Homo sapiens: one gene and its partner. The protein of the gene in region 2 interacts with the protein of the main gene of each other region in a pairwise test. Each region holds a gene or a part of one and is shown on either strand. Other genes may lie near its edges.

Region 1 (3,592 bases), about 50 Mb from region 2:
ACGTCACCACCGAGATTTCGGCACCCCAGAAACAGCCCAACCGGCTCCTTCCCACCAGCTGCCTCTTTACTAAAACATCCGAAACCTTTTTCTCACTTTCCCCAAGCTGTTTTCCTCACCCTTCAGAGGCCTGCTGGGAAAACAGTTCGAAGCAGGCAATTCTGCAAAGTGGGGGGGAAACAAAAACAACCAGCTCAGAGTTAGGGCTGTGCAGCCAGATGCAAGCGTGAAAACAAAACCGAACCGAAAAATCCCACCACTGTGCGGAAGGAGTGCCACACAGGCTGGGATGAGAACCGTCGGGGTTAGGGAAATGTCTCTGTAAGAAACCCTCAAGGACTAGAATTACTCCTAATGGGAAAAACGTGTAAACATGTCCCACTTAAATGAACATCACGATGCAAATGCTTAGTTATGAGGACTGAAAATGAACCCCTTTCAACCCAAAACGTGCAAGAAAGAGAAATTTCGGCATTTTAATGATGCCCAAGGACAGGCAGTCAACCAACAGCACTTGGAAAGGGCAAGTCTGGGCAGAGGTGCACATCCCGGCCTTCCTGTGTTTCTTGGGGGCCATTGTTTTCTCAGGAGGGAGGAAAAGAGGGAGGGAGGAAGGAAAAAGGGATGGAAGGAAAACGAAAGAGGAAGGGAGGGAGGGAGAAAAGGGAGGGAGGGACAGAGGGAGGGAGGAAAGGAAGGAAGGAGGAAGGGAGGGAGACAGGGAGGGACAGAGGGAAGGAAGGAGGGAGGGAGGAGAGGGAAGGAGGGAGGGAGGGATGGGGGAAGGAGGGAGGGGAGGAAAGGGAGGCAGAGAGGGAGGGGAGGGAGGGAACGGAGAGAAGGAAGGGAGAAAAGGGAGAGAAGGGAGGGAAGGAAGGGAGAGAAGGAAGGAAGGGAGAAAAGGGAGAGAAGGGAGAGAAGGAAGGAAGGGAGAGAAGGAAGGAAGGGAGAGAAGGAAGGAAGGGAGAGAAAGAAAGAAGGGAAGGGAGGGAAGGAAGGGAGAGAAGAAGAGACAAGGATGGGAGGGAAGGAAGGAAGGAAAGAAGGAAGAAAGGAAGGATTTGTTGGCTGAAGAAGAGAGGGAGGGTTGGACGGAAGGAGGAGGGAAGGAAGAGACCATGTGAGAGGAGGTGAGGAAGACAGGAAGAGAGGGGTGATAAGGAGGCTGGGGGGAGAGGGAAGGCGCTGATGCCATCCGGATCCATCCAGGCTGCCTCGTCCATGGGGCCTCCGTTTATACAACTATCCACTAAGTGAAGGAACCGGCAAAAATCTCTGCTCCCGGGGAACACTTTCACCAGCTGCCGGCTTTATTCACTCAGAAATTTTGATGCCAAAACACCCGAAAGTACATCATAACTTGAGGATTTACAGACAAGAAAGAGGAGCACAGAACTGACCGTGGGTGCCCTGGAAAAAGTTGCTTTCAACAAGGACCACAACAAAAATAAAAATAATAATAATGATAAACCTCCCTCCACTCCCAGGATCAAGGGGTTCAGACAAACTGCAGTCCAGACGGACACGCGGCAGACAAATGAATGAGGAGCTAATGCATTGCTCTGGTTTATTGAACAACAGTCCAACTTTACAGCATTAAATAAGGGGCAACCGTTCAGGAGGGGAACGATGGCTTAAAAATAAAAATGAAGACAGAGCCGGGACAGTTCACATTTCCACGTGAGTGAGGAAAAGCGAAGGATTGTTAGAGACGTGAAGAGAACGCTGGCAATGCTACAGAATGGAGCCCACGGAGGCGTGGGCTGCCCTGCGTCCCCGGCCTCGGGGCAGAACAGGGAGCAACCCCAAAGCCTGCCCCACTGTGTCCCTTCCAGCTGCCCTTCTGCCGAGAACACCCGGAGCTGAGGGTTCCAAGTTCACGGCGGAACCGCTTCCCTTAAAAAGAAAGCAAAGGTTACGTGGATTTCTCCCGTGCTTCCTTTTCCACAGACTTAAACCGGCTCAGGACGTAAGGATAACATTCTGTGCTGCTTGCAGCCCTGAGAAGTCAGCAGCCGTGAAAGGCAGGTAGTTCCTTTGCCCTCTGACACCCCGAGTTCTTGGGGTCTCGGCAGAACACTGCCTGGAGCTGAGTGGGGTCATCCCTCCTAGACACCGTTCTCCCCAGCCCAGCTTGTCTTCACGGAGGCAGAGAACCCGCTGCACGTAGAATCCAAGCAATATGCTAAGCCTCCTGAAGTATTTTTCCTCCAGTTAAAAAGCAGTTCTACATGTTGGAAAACGTCTTTCTGTTTCCCTGAATGACTGAAAGCAACTCGCAGGAATCCAGCCACGGAAAACCCCTCCGGGGGCAATATTTTAAAATTCATTTCCCCTATGGTATTCAGTTTAAAAGAGAAGAATCAAGAGTCCTTTCCGGTAATCAAATCAAAAACACCTTATGTGGAAAAGCTGGCCGCACGGGGGAACTGGACTTTTAGGGCTGAGACACCGAAGACATAACCTCCGGACCCGTGAGCCACCCACTTTTGTTTTGTTTTGAGACGGAGTCTCACTCTGGCCTCCAGGCTGGAGTGCAGTGGCGTAGTCTTGGCTCACTGCAACCTCCACCTCCTGGGCTCAAGCGAATCTTCCGCCTCAGCCTCCCGAGTAGCTGGGATTACAGGCGGGTGCCACCGCATCTGGCTAGTTTCTTGTATTTTTAGTAGACACGAGGTTTCACCATGTTGGTTGGCCAGGCTGGTCTCGAACTCCTGACCTCAGCGTGAGCCACCACGCCCGGCCACCGCCCAGTTTTAAGGACCAACTCCGCAAAGTGAAATTTCGGCAGGCAGCAGGAAGCAGGCTCTCTGGCAGCAACCTGTCGAAAATACAACACATTCCACACTTTTTTTTCTGTTTGCTTTTTGTTAAGTGTCTGCATTTTTGTACTCATCTGTCACATTTTTAACCGAACATTAAAAAAAAAGGTCTCTCTTTTTAAGAAGGGCATTTTGGCTAAAAGGTCTCTTCCCCATTTCTCAGAAGCAAGAGGTCCCTGCTTGCACGAGAATGTAAACATGAATTCAGTGATCTGGACCTCGCAGAAGTCACACATGATGATCGGGAAAGGCTCCTTCGACGCCACCCAGAATGTTCCTGCGTTTCTTCTAAACCCTCCCAGGGAGAACTCGAATCAGACATGGTGGAGGTCTTAAGTATCTGTGAAGGAAGGAACAGCTCCTCTAGGCTCTGCTGCACGCAATTCCCAAGCAGAAGCGTTGGCAGTTCCCAAGCAGAAGTCGTCCGGGCCCCGGGAATAGGGGAGGAAAGGAAACCCACTCAAAGCCACCTCTCTTGTGTCTTCTTTTTTCTTTTTGAGAGAGTCTCGCTCTTGTCGCCCAGGCTGGAGTGCAGCGATCTCAGCTTACTGCAACCTCCACCTCCCAGGTTCAAGCGATTCTCTGGCCTCAGCCTCCAGAAGCTGGGATTACAGGCACATGCCATCAGTCCTGGCTAATTTTTGTATTTTTAGTAGAGACGGGGTTTCGCCATGTTGGCCAGGCTGGTCTCGATCTCCTGACCTCAGCTGATCTGCCCACCTCGGCCTCCCAAAGTGCTGCGATTATAGACAGGAGCCACCGCCCCCGAC
Region 2 (5,968 bases):
TTGATAAACCAATACAGAGAAACAGCGATCTTTATTACATAATGTGTTCATCACCCTCACTCCTAAGATACCTATCCAATACCTACATGCTGTTAATGAAACAAACTCTGGAAGTTTTTGGCGGATCTACAGTTTTAACACTTTCTTTCTTTCTTTCTTTTTTTTTTTTCACTTGTAGCATTTTTTTAGCAGTCCTTTGATTCATTAACGGTGCTTAGGAAGAACAACATGTCGTTTAAAAAAGAAATATTTCAAACACACAGAAAAGTATGGGGAATAATATTGAGTCCAGTCGGATCTCAACATTACCCCACAGCTATGTTAGGTCTGATTTATTTATTCAGAATATTAGAAAAACTGCAAATAGGCCGGGCGTGGTAGCTCACAGTTGTAATCCCAGCACTTTGGAAGGCTGAGGCGGGTGGATCACCTGAGGTCAGGAAGTTTGAGACCAGCCTGGCCAACATGGTGAAACCCCGTCTCTACCATAAATTAAAAAATGAGCTGGGTGTGGGGGCACGTGCCTGTAACCCCAGCTACTCGGGAGGCTGAGGCAGGAGAATCACTTGAACCCAGGAGGTGAAAGTTGGAGTGAGCTGAGATTGCCTTATTGCACTCTACCCTGGCCGAGAAGAGTGAAACTCCATCTCAAAAACAAAAACAAACAAAACACACTATCAACAAGTCACAGCTGAAGCTGTCTGTGCCGCACTCAGTAATCCCTGCCCGCCCTCCCTCCCTCCTCCACTTACAGCCAGTCACCTTAATTTGATGGCTTTTTATTCACATTCATGTTTGTATACATTTACCATTTACTTATTATCCATAAAATATATATTCTTCTTTTGCATGTTTTAAAATTTTATATGAATGGCCTCTGTAGTTAACTTTCTGCATGCAATTTTTTTTTTTTTTTTCACTCAGCCCTGATGTGTATGAGGGAACAAATGCCTGAGGATCTTTCTCAGGTAGCTGAGCTGAAAAGCAGCTGGGCTTGAGGAGACCCTTTCCAGCCCCTTCCCATCTACTCACCCTGATTCCCACGGTTAGGGTCATTATCCAAATCATTCCCCTGGAAGTCTTCGGCCCGTTTATTACACATGAAAGGTGGGAGGGTGGCCTTGAAACCTAGAAAGAAGCAAAATGTTTATTCCTTAAGAGACAAGCTTGGGCCTGGTATGGTGGCTCATGTCTGTAGTACCAACACTTTGGGAGGCTAAGGCTGGAGAATTGCTTGAGGCCAGGAATTCAAGGCTGCAGTAAGCTATGATTGCACTACTGCCCTCTAGCCTAGGTGACAGACTGAGACTGACTCAAAAAAAAAAAAAAAAAAGGAAGAGACAAGCCGAGAGAAGGTAGGGTGGGTGTGTGTGGGGTGGGGGTAGGGGGGTTGCCGGGATGCCACAGAGACAGTTGGGCTCATCAGAACAGAAGCCTAAGGGAGAGAAACGTGCAGGATCCAGGTATAAGCTCCACTGTGGCCAGTCCCTGCCCTCAGCCCTGACAGGATACAGAAGAGCAGAACACCCAGAAGCTGCCTTGCGATTTTTCCCTGCACAAAAGGAAAATGTGAGGTACTTTCTGCAGCCTAAGAAGTAGCCAAAGCAGGAAAAGGGATGCTCATGTGTCCCCAGACTTGTCTGTTCCCAGAACTTTCTGTTACCTAGTTTAGTCATAGCCTCATACTTTCTCTTCATATACACATAGAAGATTTTCTCCGAGGCTTTCATCTTTTCCCACTCTTCCTTAGAGAAGTATTTGGCAATATCATCGAAGGCCTACAAAAAAAAAAAAAAGGAATTATGGCAGGGACTCAGCTAGGCATGTCTGCCATTCAGCTGGAGCCGCTTCCTGTGTGCTAGATCTGGGAACTGGGGATGATAATCCTTCCTGGTTGATGCCATGGCTAACTGACAGAACACGAGGGACCTTCCCTAGCTTCACCCCTGCCACACAGTAGGGCTTTAATGCTGCTGGCTGGCTCTCTTCCCACCTTCCAGAATGGACTGAGAGTCACCAGATGTAGTGCAAGGTCACAGACTTGTCTCCAGGGATGCTAGGTGATGACAGAGCGAGGGTGGGAGGCTCCCAAGGGTCCAGATCTCCCCCGAGACCCTGCTCCTTGTCTCCAGTATCTCTGTCCTCCCCTCCTCAGAAACCGGGTCACCCCACACTGTCCCCTGGGCCACTACTCTGCTCCCTCCAGGTCACCTCACCTTTTGGATCTTCTCTGGTATTTGAGCACCAACCGTGGGTCTCCTTGCAAAGGCGTCGTCTCCGTTCATGGCACCGGGAGCAGTCTGACCTGCAAGAGAAATAGCCTGAGTCTTTCCAGCCACAGCAGCTTTGATCCTGTGGAGGGAGAAGTCAGTGAAGGCCGGCCACCCTCAGTCACCTGGAATCAGCTGCTGCATTTCTCCATCCGGGGCTTATCTGTCCCTGAGTAAGGATATGGGGAGAAATCAGATGAAAACAGGGAACCAGGGGTCTCTGGGAGAAGTATTGATAGGGAATGACAGGTTTCCTATGGGCAAAGCAGCCTTGAGTCTTTGGGAGGGGGTTGGCTAATGTTGTTAGTAGTTTCCCTGGAGCTAGGCTTACCCTGAAAGATGTACGGACCCTTTTTGGGGAGGCAGGGACATGACTGTGTAATTTTATTCAGTGGGGGCATGCTGACACCCCCACTCAATAAATAAAGGAAGGGAAGTTAGTCCCAGAGATAACATGGTCTCTTTGGCGATGGATCTGATCAGGCAGAGGGATGGGGGGTTCTGTTCTGTTGAAGAGAAATGAGCATCGCTAATATGAACGTGTTCAGAGGCTATTACTCGGTGATTTGTAAATTATTAGAAGGAAGAGAGCTAGAATTTCTGAGACTACAAGAGCCCGCCATCACTTAGAGAGAATGTGGGGCATTTCAAGATGCAGCAATCAGCCAGGCGCCGTGGCTCACGCCTGTAATCCCAGCACTTTGGGAGGCCGAGGCGTGCAGGCCGCTTGAGCCCAGGAGGTCGAGACCCGGCTGGGAAACACAGCAAAACCCCCGTCTACAAAATACACAAAAAGTTAGCTGGGGTTGGTGGAGCAGGCCTGTACCATCCCAGCACTTTGGAAGGCCAAGGTGGGCGGATCGCCTTAGCCCAGGAGCTTGAGACCAGGCTCGCAAACGTAGCAAAACCATCTCTACTAAAAAAAACAAACAAAATTTAGCAGAAGCGGGGTGGTGCGCGCCTGTAGCCCCAAGGCCTAGGCGAGAGGCTCACTTGAGCCCAGGAGGAAAGATTTGAGTGAGCTTTTTTGGTTTTTGTTTTTTCAGACAGGGTCTCGCTCTGTTGCCCAGTCGGGAGTGCACTGGCGTGATCATGGCTCACTGCAACCTCCGCCTCTTAGGTTCAGGCGATCCACCAGCTGTGGCTTCCAAAAGTGCAGGGATTACAAGTGTAAGCCACCACGCCCGGCCCAAATTTCTTAAGTTACTACAGAGTTCCTAGGAAAAATCCCGTACCTGAAAAAGTTAGAAACTGACAGGAAAGATTCGAGATGGCGGCCTGCCTCATATACACTCCTTATTAAAACTAGATAGCAAATGCACCGCGGAGGAGGGGAGGGGTAGGAAGAATGGAAAAAGAAAATCGGCGTATGCTTACTCTGATTTTGGAAGAATCCAAAGAGAAAATCAGACCGTGCGTACTCTGAGTATGGAAGAATCGAAAGAGAGAGAAAGTCAGAGCATGCGTACTCTGAACTTAAAGTAGCCAATCCCAGGGGATGCTTTAGGCGGGAAAATTAGAGTCTCCACCCCCACTTTGAGAAGGTTCCGTCCCTGGAGCCGGGACTGATAGAAGCCACATCCGCTTCGCTTGTTCCGCCTACTGTTCTGACTTCTAATTGGCCAGATGGAGTTCACTAACTGCCCTGATTGGTCCATCATCCTTGGGCAGTGACATAGCAGAATAATGTCTCCTCCTCCAGCCACACTTTGTTGCCACTGCGAAAAAGTGGGTGGTCCTCAGGCGCCGTCAGATTTTGAACTCTCTGAAGACCGTTCCTGGATCTTGGGTTAAAAATCTGGATTCTAGTCTGAACTGTGGGAAGAAAAAAATAGTCAATCTGTGATTTTTCTACTTGAAAGACACGATGTTTTCCAAACTAGCACATTTGCGGAGGTTTGCTATACTTAGTCGTGGCTTTCATTCTTCAGTGGCTTCTATGTCTGTTGCCACTGAAAAAACAGTCCAAGGCCCCGCAACCTCTGCTTACATTTTTGAAAGGGAATCTTAAGTATGGTGCGCACAATTACCATCCTTTACCTGTAGCCCTGAAGAGAGGAAAATGTATTTACTTATGGGATGTGATTGTGGTATTGGTTACATCTGCCTTGGCCAATCCTCCAGCCTCCGTCTTGGGACTACAGGCGCGAACCACCCTACCCCCACTAATATTTTTTATTTTTTGATTTTTTAATAGAGAAGGTTTCGCTGTGTTGGCCAGGCTGGTCTTGACGTCGTGGGCTCAAGCGATCCTCCCACCTCGGCCTCGGGACTACAGGCATTCACCACCCAGCCCACGCTTTTTTTTTTTTTTTTTTTTAAGTAGAAACCAGGTTTTGCTATGTTGGCCAGGCTGGTCTCATCGTCCTGGGCTCAAGGGATCCTTCCGCCATGGCCTCGAGACGACAGGCATGCACCACCCTGCCCACGCTTTTTTTTTTTTTTTTTTTTTTAGTAGAAACCGTGTTTCCCTATGTTGGCCAGGCCGGCATCAAGCTCCTGGACTCAAGGGATCCTCCCATCTCAGGACTACAGCCATGCACCACCCTGCCCAAGCTATTTTTTGTTTTGTTTTGTTTCGTTTTAGTGGAAACCGGGTTTCGATATGTTGCCCAGGCTGGCCTCAACCTCTCAGGCTCAGATGATGCTTCCACCTCGGCCTCAGAACTATAGGCGTGTGCCATTCTACCCCGCTCATTTTTATTTATTTATTTATTTATTTATTTTTTAGGAGAGGCAGGCTTTCGCTTTGTTGGCCAGGCTGGTATCAAACTCCTGGGCTCAAGCAATGCTCCCACCTTGGCCTCAAAACTACAGGAGTGAGCCACCCCGCCCACGCTATTTTTCTGTTGTTCTTGTTGTTAGCAGAAATGGGGTTTCGCTATGTTGGCCAGGCTGGCCTCGACCTCCTAGGCTCAAGCAATCCTCCCGCCTCGGCCTCGGGACTATGGGCTCACACCACCCCGCCCCCACTAATATTTTTAATTTTTCTATTAGAGACAGTTTCGCTATGTTGTCCAGGCTGGGCTCTACCTCTGGGACTCAAGTGATTCTCCCGCCTCGGCCTTGGGACTACAGGCATGCACCACCCTGCCTTTTGCTATGTTTCCCAGGTTGGTCTTGACCTCCTGGGCTCACTCAATGATTTGAACCCGGGAAGTGGAGGTTGCATTGAGCTGAGATCACACCACTGCACTCCAGCTTGGGCGACAGAGCAAGACTGAAAAAGAAAGAAAGAAAGAAAGAAAGAGCGAGAGAGAGACCAGCTGAATCTCCGTAAGAACAGTGAGCTTTGTGGTATTTTTACTTGCCCTCGTCCCATCTCATGCTCCCAGCTTGGTTCTGTTCATTGTTGATGAAATACAGATAGGATTGGCCAGAACTGGTAGATGGCTGGCTGTTGATCATGAAAATGTCAGTCCTGATATAGTCCTCCTTGGAAAGGCCCTTTCTGGAGGTTGATACTCTGTGTCTGCAGTGCTGTGGGACGATGGCATAATGCTGACCATTAAGCCAGGGGAACATGGGTCCACATACGGTGGCAATCCACTAGGCTGCTGAGTGACCATCGCAGCCCTTGAGGTTTTAGAACAAGAAAATCTTGCTGAAAATGCAGAAAAAAAAATGGGTATTATCGTGAGAAGTGAACCCATGAAGCTACCTTTTGATGTTGTAACTGCCATAAGAGGAACAGAATT

Evidence for each region. The genes of interacting proteins can lie anywhere in the genome.
Region 1: the proteins of SSX2 (region 2) and ZBED1 interact in a two-hybrid assay, tested with the Homo sapiens proteins (one large-scale study listed by BioGRID).

Annotation. Positions count from the first base shown.
Region 1 is NC_000023.11:2,484,882-2,488,473, forward strand, and holds the end of ZBED1 (E3 SUMO-protein ligase ZBED1), read right to left. Parts: 3' UTR 1,554-3,592; downstream 1-1,553.
Region 2 is NC_000023.11:52,703,465-52,709,432, forward strand, and holds the start of SSX2 (protein SSX2), read right to left. Parts: upstream 3,715-5,968; 5' UTR 3,648-3,714; intron 2,306-3,647; 5' UTR 2,286-2,305; coding exon 2,217-2,285; intron 1,779-2,216; coding exon 1,664-1,778; intron 1,129-1,663; coding exon 1,033-1,128; intron 1-1,032.